Homo sapiens: one gene and its partner. The protein of the gene in region 2 purifies or fractionates together with the protein of the main gene of each other region. This does not show direct contact. Each region holds a gene or a part of one and is shown on either strand. Other genes may lie near its edges. The genes, in order: UGGT2 and METTL23.

Region 1 (3,809 bases), on a different chromosome or scaffold from region 2:
CTTTAATCATTAGTTCTTTTTAATAAAGAAGAAAAAGTTCTGTCATAAATTCTTTTGAAAAAATGTAAAAGTAACATTAATATGGTTATTATAAAATGACATAAGGGCTAAAGAGTAAGAGGCAGAACATGTGACTAATATGGTTTGGCTGTGTGCCCACTCAAATCTCATCTTCAATTGTAGTTCTCATAATCCCCATGTGCCGTAGGAGGGACCCAGTAGGAGGTAATTAAATCATGGAGGCAGTTGCCTCTATGCTATTCTTGTGATAGTGACTTCTCAGGACATCTGATGGTTTTATAAGGGGCTTTCCCCTTTTGCTCATACTTCTCCTTCCTGCCACTATGTGAAGAAGCACGTTTGCTTCCCCTTCTGCCATGACTGTAAGTTTCCTGAGGCCTCCCCAGCCATGCTGGGGAGTCAATTATACCTCTTTCCTTTATAAATTACCCAGTCTCAGGTATGTCTTTATTAGCAGCATGAGAACGGACTAATACAGTGACATGGCTAGTTGTTGATACCCAGTCAGCCATGCCACCTAAGCTTGCTGCTTCAGGCAAATACTTAACTTCCTTACAACTCAGATGCCTATTCATTGACAGAAGGATAATCCAGAAAGAATGCTGATATCTTTATAAGATATATATGTATAATCAAAATATAAAACTCACCAAATTATGAAAATTGCGCCTTATGGAAGGTACACTTCCAGGAAATACTGGCTTCAGAAGTTTCTGGCAACTTGTAGGCCATGTAATATACAAATCATCATTTTCTAAGTCATTAATCCACTAGAAAAGAACGCAGACACTTGTGAAAGCTATATTAACACTGAAATCATTTTCAAAGCCAGATTTTTACTATATCGTGATAAATAAAAATATACATAGAATTTTCTATATTTCTGATTAAATAGAGGAGCTAGTTTAATATTCTCTAAATTAAGGAATACATTATGTGCAACAATTTTATACTTGTGTAGCCTTTTACATTAAGCCTTCTCTCAAAAACAATTCCTTTCACTTGTGTTTGTTTTTCATATCCCAACGTAAAATTGTATGAAAATTACTCTCCATAAACCACTTAAGAGAGATGAATATTTATTTTAATTATCAGCAGTAAATGAAGCCCTCTCCACCTCCCCTCTCAATTTAAAGGCTTGGATATAAGGAAAATAAAATGGCTTATAAAAATTAAATTATAAAATCAACATCTTAGAAATCAAGTTCTAATCCACTATACAAGCTGGAGAAAACATATAAACTGCTGTTTAGAGGCATGTGGTCGGGGAAGCAACCACCAATCAAGAAGTGAGGCATTATGGTCCTTGAAAGCAGGAGGCATAAGCAGCAAGCTCCACATTCACCTAAACTTCATCCCTGGGTCCCCAGATTGCGTCCTGGAGAAATACTGAGTTGGAAAGCAGAAGTCAAAGTACGGGCTGCCAAAGTGCTGAGATTTGAGGGCAGGATGCAGGGTGAGAGGGTAGGAGAGAAGGAAACTGCAGGAAACCAGAAAAATCTCCATACAAATTCCTCTCAAGTCATTTGCTGACTCCTATCCTGCACATATACATGGTAACACCTCTACAAAAGCCAGAAGGAAAGAGAAACGGAGAGGTTGAAACCACAGCTATAAAATAGTACTGAGAAGACAGAGACCAAAGTCCAAGTACTATATAGTACTATATACACTGTAGACTTTCATTTGAGACCCAGTAAGGCCAGATCCTAGAAGTAAGACACAAAAATAGTAGAGCCTTCACAAAGCCTAAAAACAAGCTTCAACAGAAGCAAGTGAGCATCTGGCACTGAGGATACCAGAACAAACCTTAGCTCTTTGCTTCTACAGCTTTTCATCAATTTCTGGCTCTCACAAAAAAAAAAAAAAGTCATGCAAAGAGAAAAGGACCAAATATTGAAATGAAACAGGAAAAAAAAAAAAGACAATAAAAAACCCCAAAGATTACTTAGACAAGGACTTTAAAATAACTATCAATATATTTTTTAAAAAGTACAAAAATTTCTAAAAAGAAAAATTTTGACAGAACTAAAATCTGTTTAAAAAGAATCAAAGAGATATTTAAGGTTTTTAAAATATAATATTTATAATTAAGAACTCTAAGAACTTATTGGGTGGGTTTAATTGCAGACTGTACGCAGAAGAGACAGGGATTAGTAAACGTGACAACAGATCAACTGTTATAGTAACTAAACTACAAAGAAAAGAATAAACAAACCAAACAAAGTGTGAGAGAGATTAGGAATATATGAAAAAGATCTAGCATATAGGTAACTAAAAATCCAAGAGGAAAGGAGAGAAAGTCTGGAGCAAATAATACTTGAAGAAATTAGGTTTCTACAGTAATTCAGATAATCCAGGTATGAGTTTATTGTGGACTGAACTAAGTCAGAGGCAGTGGCTTCAGAGAAAAGGTGACAGAATTAAGAGACACACACAGATGGATGAATAAAACAGAGGAATTTAGGGTATATGTTCCAATAGCTAAAAGAAACGATGTCTAAATAAAGGAAGGCATGAAGACAAATCAATAAACAGATAAAAATTACAAAAAGAACCAAATAAAAATTTTGGAATTCAAAAGTATAATAATTGAAATAAAAAATTAATGAGAGGAGCTCAACAGCATATTTGAGCAGTTAGAAGAAAGAATTAATGAATTTGAAGGTAAGTCAATGAGCTTACTCAGTCTGAGGAAGAAAAGAGAAAGGAAGATATAGGTGCAGAGGAGTCTAGCCCCAAAGGGGAAACAGGCCTTATCTTGACCCAAAGGCAGCTGAGGGTGAGAATTTGGCAGCTCTTTGGAAAGGGCAATCAGAACTCCCATTCCCAATGGAGCTCAGAATCATACAGAGCCTTCAAGCAGTGCCACTTTTCCTGACTAAAAGCAAGTGTGCCTAGACAGACAAAATGAGACTCTCAACTACAGTGCAACTAAACTTGTGGTCTGAAGACTGTTAATAACCTATAAGTACAGAAATTAAGTGTTCAACAACTTGCAGTAATTTGACATGGCCATGACATTTGAGCATGTATCAGTCTCATTTCACTGAACATGGTATAAGCCAGCTTGGGGTTCATCAAACTCCTGTGGTGTGCCACATGTAGTACAAAATACATATTACAGCACTTTGGGAGCCTGAGGTGGGTGGATCATGAGGTCAGGAGTTCGAGACCAGCTTGGCCAACATAGTGAAACCCCATCTCTACTAAAAATACAAAAATTAGCCAGGCATGGTGATACACGCCTGTAGTGCCAACTACTCAGGAGGCTGAGGCAGGAGAATCGCTTGAACCCAGGAGGCAGAGGTTGTGGTAAGCTGAGATTGCACCACTGCACTCCAGCCTGGGCAATAGAGCGAGACTGTCTCAAAAAAAAAAAGATACATATTAGTCATAGGAGTAGGACAACATATTGATTGGCAACAGGTTAAGGAAAAAATGTTATTCTCTTACTATGGATAGTTTAAGAAGTAGTGCTCTAGCACTTGATGAGGGCTATCTCTGAAAAACCACAGGAAAAAAAAAAGAAGAAAAAAAGAAATTAACAAAAAAAGATACGACGGCCCCAGGCTTTGCTAGGGTCCAAGATGAAAGCATTATCTGTGGTCATTCTGATACTGATAAGATTTTGGCAAAAGATATACCCACCCCCTAGTATCTGTAGGGGGATAGGTTCCAGGACTCCCCGAGGATACCAAAATCTAAGAATATGCAAGTCTCTAACATAAAATGGCATAGTATTTGCATAGAACCTACTCACATCCTTCCATATACCTTAAATCATC
Region 2 (4,437 bases):
ATCAGTGAAAAACTTTGGCACCTTGTAGTCTTCCAAAAGTTTCCTTCTTTTAGGGTGTTCACCATAGCTGCTGTCAAAGATGTAAAGGGGACTATCATCTCGAGTGCTCTCCATGTACTCGATGTAGTATTTCATCTTCATCTTCACTGAGTAGCCATCGTTATCCTCACCACACTTGAACTTCTGGTTCCGATATTTCCTTTTTAGGCGCTCCAGAGTCCATTTCTCCTGCGCAGACCAGCCCTCTTGCGCATTCAACAAAACCACGGGCTTGTAAGGTCTTTCATACCGCTCCACAAATTCTTCCACAGACAGCTGTAAAGCATCTGCCCTTTCCACGTTATCCTGAGGGAATTAAAAAAGACCTGTCCAGTTAAAAAAAAAAAAAAAGTCCAGTGGCAGATAAGGGTGTCCCCAAGGCCAACTGGTAATGACAAACCGAAGGAAGTTGACTCTCGTCTGGCTCCTCCGGGGTGGGGGCAGGGCGCGTGCGTGAGGCCACGTCGTTCCTAGAGCCACCCCCCATGAGCCTTGACAGCCAGGTCCCCTAGGGGACCCGCCGCCCAAAGGAGTCAGGGACGACGGGCCTTCTAGTTGAGAGCGCCACAGGCGTGGGACTCCCGTCGTCCGCCAGAGCAGACGGGCGGCCACAGCACGGGAGGAAGCAGACCCGCCCCGGAATCCGCGCCTCGGGGACCCCAAACTCCGCGGGGTGCGGGTGAGCCTCTACGAGGTCCCGGGCGCTCGGGGCGAGGGCAGCCTCGGGCCCAGAGAAAGGTGCGTAGCGGCTGGAGGTGCCGATGCCCGGCCTGGCCACCCCCGCCCGACCCGCTCACCGCCACGGCCGCCGGGCTCAGCGAGAAGCTCTCGTAGTAGTTGTGCCGGGTCCAATCCAGCGAGTCCTTGAGCTCCGGCCGCGCACTCCGCTTGGCCTCGCGGATGCGCTTCTTGCTCTTGTGGTTCATTCTGCGGGGTCGCCAGCTGGTTCCGCTACGACCTCGGCGCAGCCCGCTTCCTGACACTAACGCACCCCTCCCCGGCCTGGGCGGCGGCGACGGCAGTACCCAAACGCCCTTCGCTCAGTCCCGGCGCCTTTAAAGTCGCCTTCCAGAAAATTCACTCCCCAGCCACCTCCCGAGCCTCGGGTTGGGCAAGCGGCCGCCGTCTTCCCCGCCCCGACGCCTCTCGCGGTTTTCCATTGGCTTTGGCTCCCCTGGGGTACTCCTTCACATACGGCGGGCCTCCGCCATGTTGGGAAGGTCACGTCGGCTGCGTCACCGCCCCGCCCCGCCCCGCCCCTCCCCTCCCGCGCTGCCGCTGTGCCCATCACTTCCGGTCGCGCCAGCCGCCCGTTGCCAGTTCTGCGCGTGTGAGTCTCTTTCGCCTTGCTCCGGGCTTTCTTCGCTCGCAGCGCGGCAGGGTTATCACCAGATCTGGGCTTTCCCCTTCTTGCCGTCAGGTGCTACGGCCACGTGGCCCGCGGCTTCCCGCTCGCGCAGTCTGGCAGCCCGGAGCCTTCCGCGGTCCCCCGCCCGCCCGGGGCCCAACGACGCCCTACTGGGCGAGCACGATTTCCGAGGACAGGGGGTCCGGGCCCAGCGCTTTCGATTCTCGGAGGAGCCGGGTCCGGGGGCCGACGGGGCTGTCCTGGAGGTCCACGTCCCGCAGGTGCGTGCAGCAGCACCCGCCAGGAGGCGCCTGAGGTCAGGAGCGGATGTCGGCTGACTTGGCTGGGTTCCTGAGGGACCGGGGGTGCGGACGCTCAGCTGCGCAGCTTCCTGCTTTAGGTTGACCCCCGGAGCAAAAACGTCGGATATGAAGCCCTTCGGTGCATTAAATGTCTCTCAGTAAGAATTTTGGAGACCCTGCCAAGAAGTGACCCTGGTCACTATGTTGGTCAGGCTGGTCTCGAACTGTAAGCTTAAGTGATCCTCCTGCCTCGGCCTCCCAAAGTGCTAGGATTACAGGCATGAGCCACTGCGCCGGGCCGGCTTTCTCCACATCGAATCTTTCCTGCCAGGAAAGTGACATTCTTGACTGACCTCTAATGCTTCTTTTGATCTTGTCCAAGGGTTTCTTGATTCATCCTTATCTCTCACTTTTGTGTGAGTTTTGGGATCAGGGTTTCCAGTTTTATTTGGTGCCCAAAGTGTTTCTTGGGTTGGACCTCGCTTCTTCCTCTAAGCTCACAGCTACAACAAAACTCTCAATAATAATTCTTTTTCTTTTCTTTTTTTTGAGACACTGTCTCGCTCTGGCGCCCAGGCTGGAGCGCAGTGGCGCGATCACAGCTCACTGCAACCTCCAACTCCCGGATTCAAGTGATCCTCCCGCCTGCCTAAGTGCTGGGATTGCAGGAGTGAGCCACCATGCCCTGCCTGTCTTCGGTTTTTCAAAGCACTTTCACTTTGCAGTATTTCATTTGGTTTTAACACCAGCCTGTGAGGCATGTCCCATGCTAAAGAAACAGCTTTAGAGAAGTTAAATGGGAGGCGGAGGCGGGAGGATCGCTTGGGACCAGGAGTTCCAGACCAGCCTGGGCAATATAGTGATACTACGTCTCTACAAAAAGTAGAAAAATTAGGCATCGTGGCTTGTGCCTGTAGCCCCAGCTACTCCGGAGGGTGAGGTGGGAGGATTGCTTGAGCCCGAGAGGTCGAGGCTGCTGTGAGCTATGATCAGGCCACTGCACTCAGGCATGAGCAACAGAGCAAGACATTGTCAAGAAGAAAAAAAAAAAAAAAGACTGGAGTGGAGGCTATTTCTGATTGTTTCCAAACAGCTTCACTTTTTTTTGCTAACTGCAACCTCAACCTCTGGGCTCAAGTGATCCTCCCACCTCAGCCTTTCAAGTAACTGAGACTACAGGCATTGGCCACCACACCCAATCTGGCTTCACGGATTTTTTTTTTTTTTTTTGGAGATGGAGTCTCGCTCTGTCACCCAGACGAGTGCAGTGGCACAATCTCAGCTCACTGCAACCTCCGCCTCGTGGGTTCAAGTGATTCTCCTGCCTCAGCCTCCCAAGTAGCTGGGATTATAGGCGCCCACCACCATGCCTGGCTAATTTTTGTATTTTTAGTAGAGACGGGGTTTTGCCATGTTGGCCAAGCTGATCTTGAACTCCTGACCTCAGGTGATGCACCTGCCTCGGCCTACCAAAGTGCTGGGATTACAGGTGTAAGCCACCGCTCCCGGCTGGCTTCACGTTTAAATACACTTGCATTTCTTCCTAAATGTAGGGGGTGATGATATTGCCTGTGAGAATAGAAGCCTCTTTCCTTTTTTTTTTTTTTTTTTGGAGTTGGAGTCTTGCTCTGTCGCCCAGGCTGGAGTGCAGTCGCGAGATCTCTGCTCACTGCAAGCTCTGCCTCCCGGGTTCACGCCATTTTCCTGTCTCAGCCTCCGGAGTAGCTGGGACTACAGGTGCCCACCACCATGTCCGGCTAATTTTTTTGTATTTTTAGTGGAGTAGAGACGGGGTTTCACCGCGTTAGCCAGGATGGTCTCGATCTCCTGACCTGATGATCCACCCACCTCGGCCTCCCAAAGTGCTGGGATTACAGGCGTGACCCACCACGCCCGGCCATTTTTTTTTGAAACGTAGTCTCACTATGTTGCCCAGGCTGGAGTGCAGTGGCGCAGTCTCGGCTCACTGCAACCTCCGCCTCCCGTGTTCAAGCGATTTTCCCGCCTCAGCTGGGATTACAGGCACGTGCCACCATGCCCGGCTAATTTTTTGTATTTTTAGTAGAGACAGGGGTTTCACCATGTTAGCCAGGCTGGTCTCAAACTCCTGACCTCAGGTGATCCGCCCGCCTCATCCTCCCAAAGTGCTGGGATGACAGGCCTGAGTCACCGTGCCCGGCCCCTGACTAGAAATATCTTATTTGCTTGCTCGTTGCCTCTCTACAGTAGGATATGTGCTCAGGGAGAGCTATATCCCCAGTCTGAGAATGATCCCTGATACTGTGACACTAGAAGCACTTGTTGAATAAACAGTGCTATCAAGAGTTTCTATCACATTGCATTGCAGTTTTATATCCCCAAAGGTCGTGGATTGGTGAACAGGGCTGCCATTTTTGTAATGGATGCCAATGCCTGACAGAAATTGCTGTATGAATGATTCCAACTTCCAGCAGCTAAATTATTTATGGCACACAAAAACATTCTTTTCAGGTCCTGCATCTCCAGTATGGAATGTATGTTTGGCCCTGTGCTGTGGTCCTGGCCCAGTACCTTTGGTTTCACAGAAGATCTCTGCCAGGCAAGGCCATCTTAGAGGTACAAATGCCCCTGAAGTTTCCAGAGTTCTAGGTTATGTTCAGATGTGTTAAGTTGACATGTGTATATTGCTTGTTTTTAGCTTTTGTTAAATATTTTTAAATCGGGTAATTTAGCTAGTTTGTAAGGTCTGTGAGCTAAGAATGTTGTTTT

What was found.
Region 1: the proteins of METTL23 (region 2) and UGGT2 purify together in Homo sapiens (affinity purification with mass spectrometry, with the first as the bait; one study listed by BioGRID). This does not show direct contact.

What each region holds. Positions count from the first base shown.
Region 1 is NC_000013.11:95,948,664-95,952,472, forward strand, and holds part of UGGT2 (UDP-glucose:glycoprotein glucosyltransferase 2 precursor), read right to left. Parts: intron 792-3,809; coding exon 672-791; intron 1-671. UniProt on the Homo sapiens protein: Recognizes glycoproteins with minor folding defects. Reglucosylates single N-glycans near the misfolded part of the protein, thus providing quality control for protein folding in the endoplasmic reticulum.
Region 2 is NC_000017.11:76,725,511-76,729,947, forward strand, and holds the start of METTL23 (histone-arginine methyltransferase METTL23), read left to right. Parts: upstream 1-1,328; 5' UTR 1,329-1,668; exon of another isoform or gene 1,669-2,020; intron 2,021-4,179; 5' UTR 4,180-4,195; coding exon of another isoform or gene 4,196-4,200; coding exon 4,201-4,284; intron 4,285-4,437. Other genes in the region: bifunctional arginine demethylase and lysyl-hydroxylase JMJD6, read right to left, coding at 1-345, 837-965. UniProt on the Homo sapiens protein: Histone methyltransferase that dimethylates histone H3 at 'Arg-17', forming asymmetric dimethylarginine (H3R17me2a), leading to activate transcription via chromatin remodeling.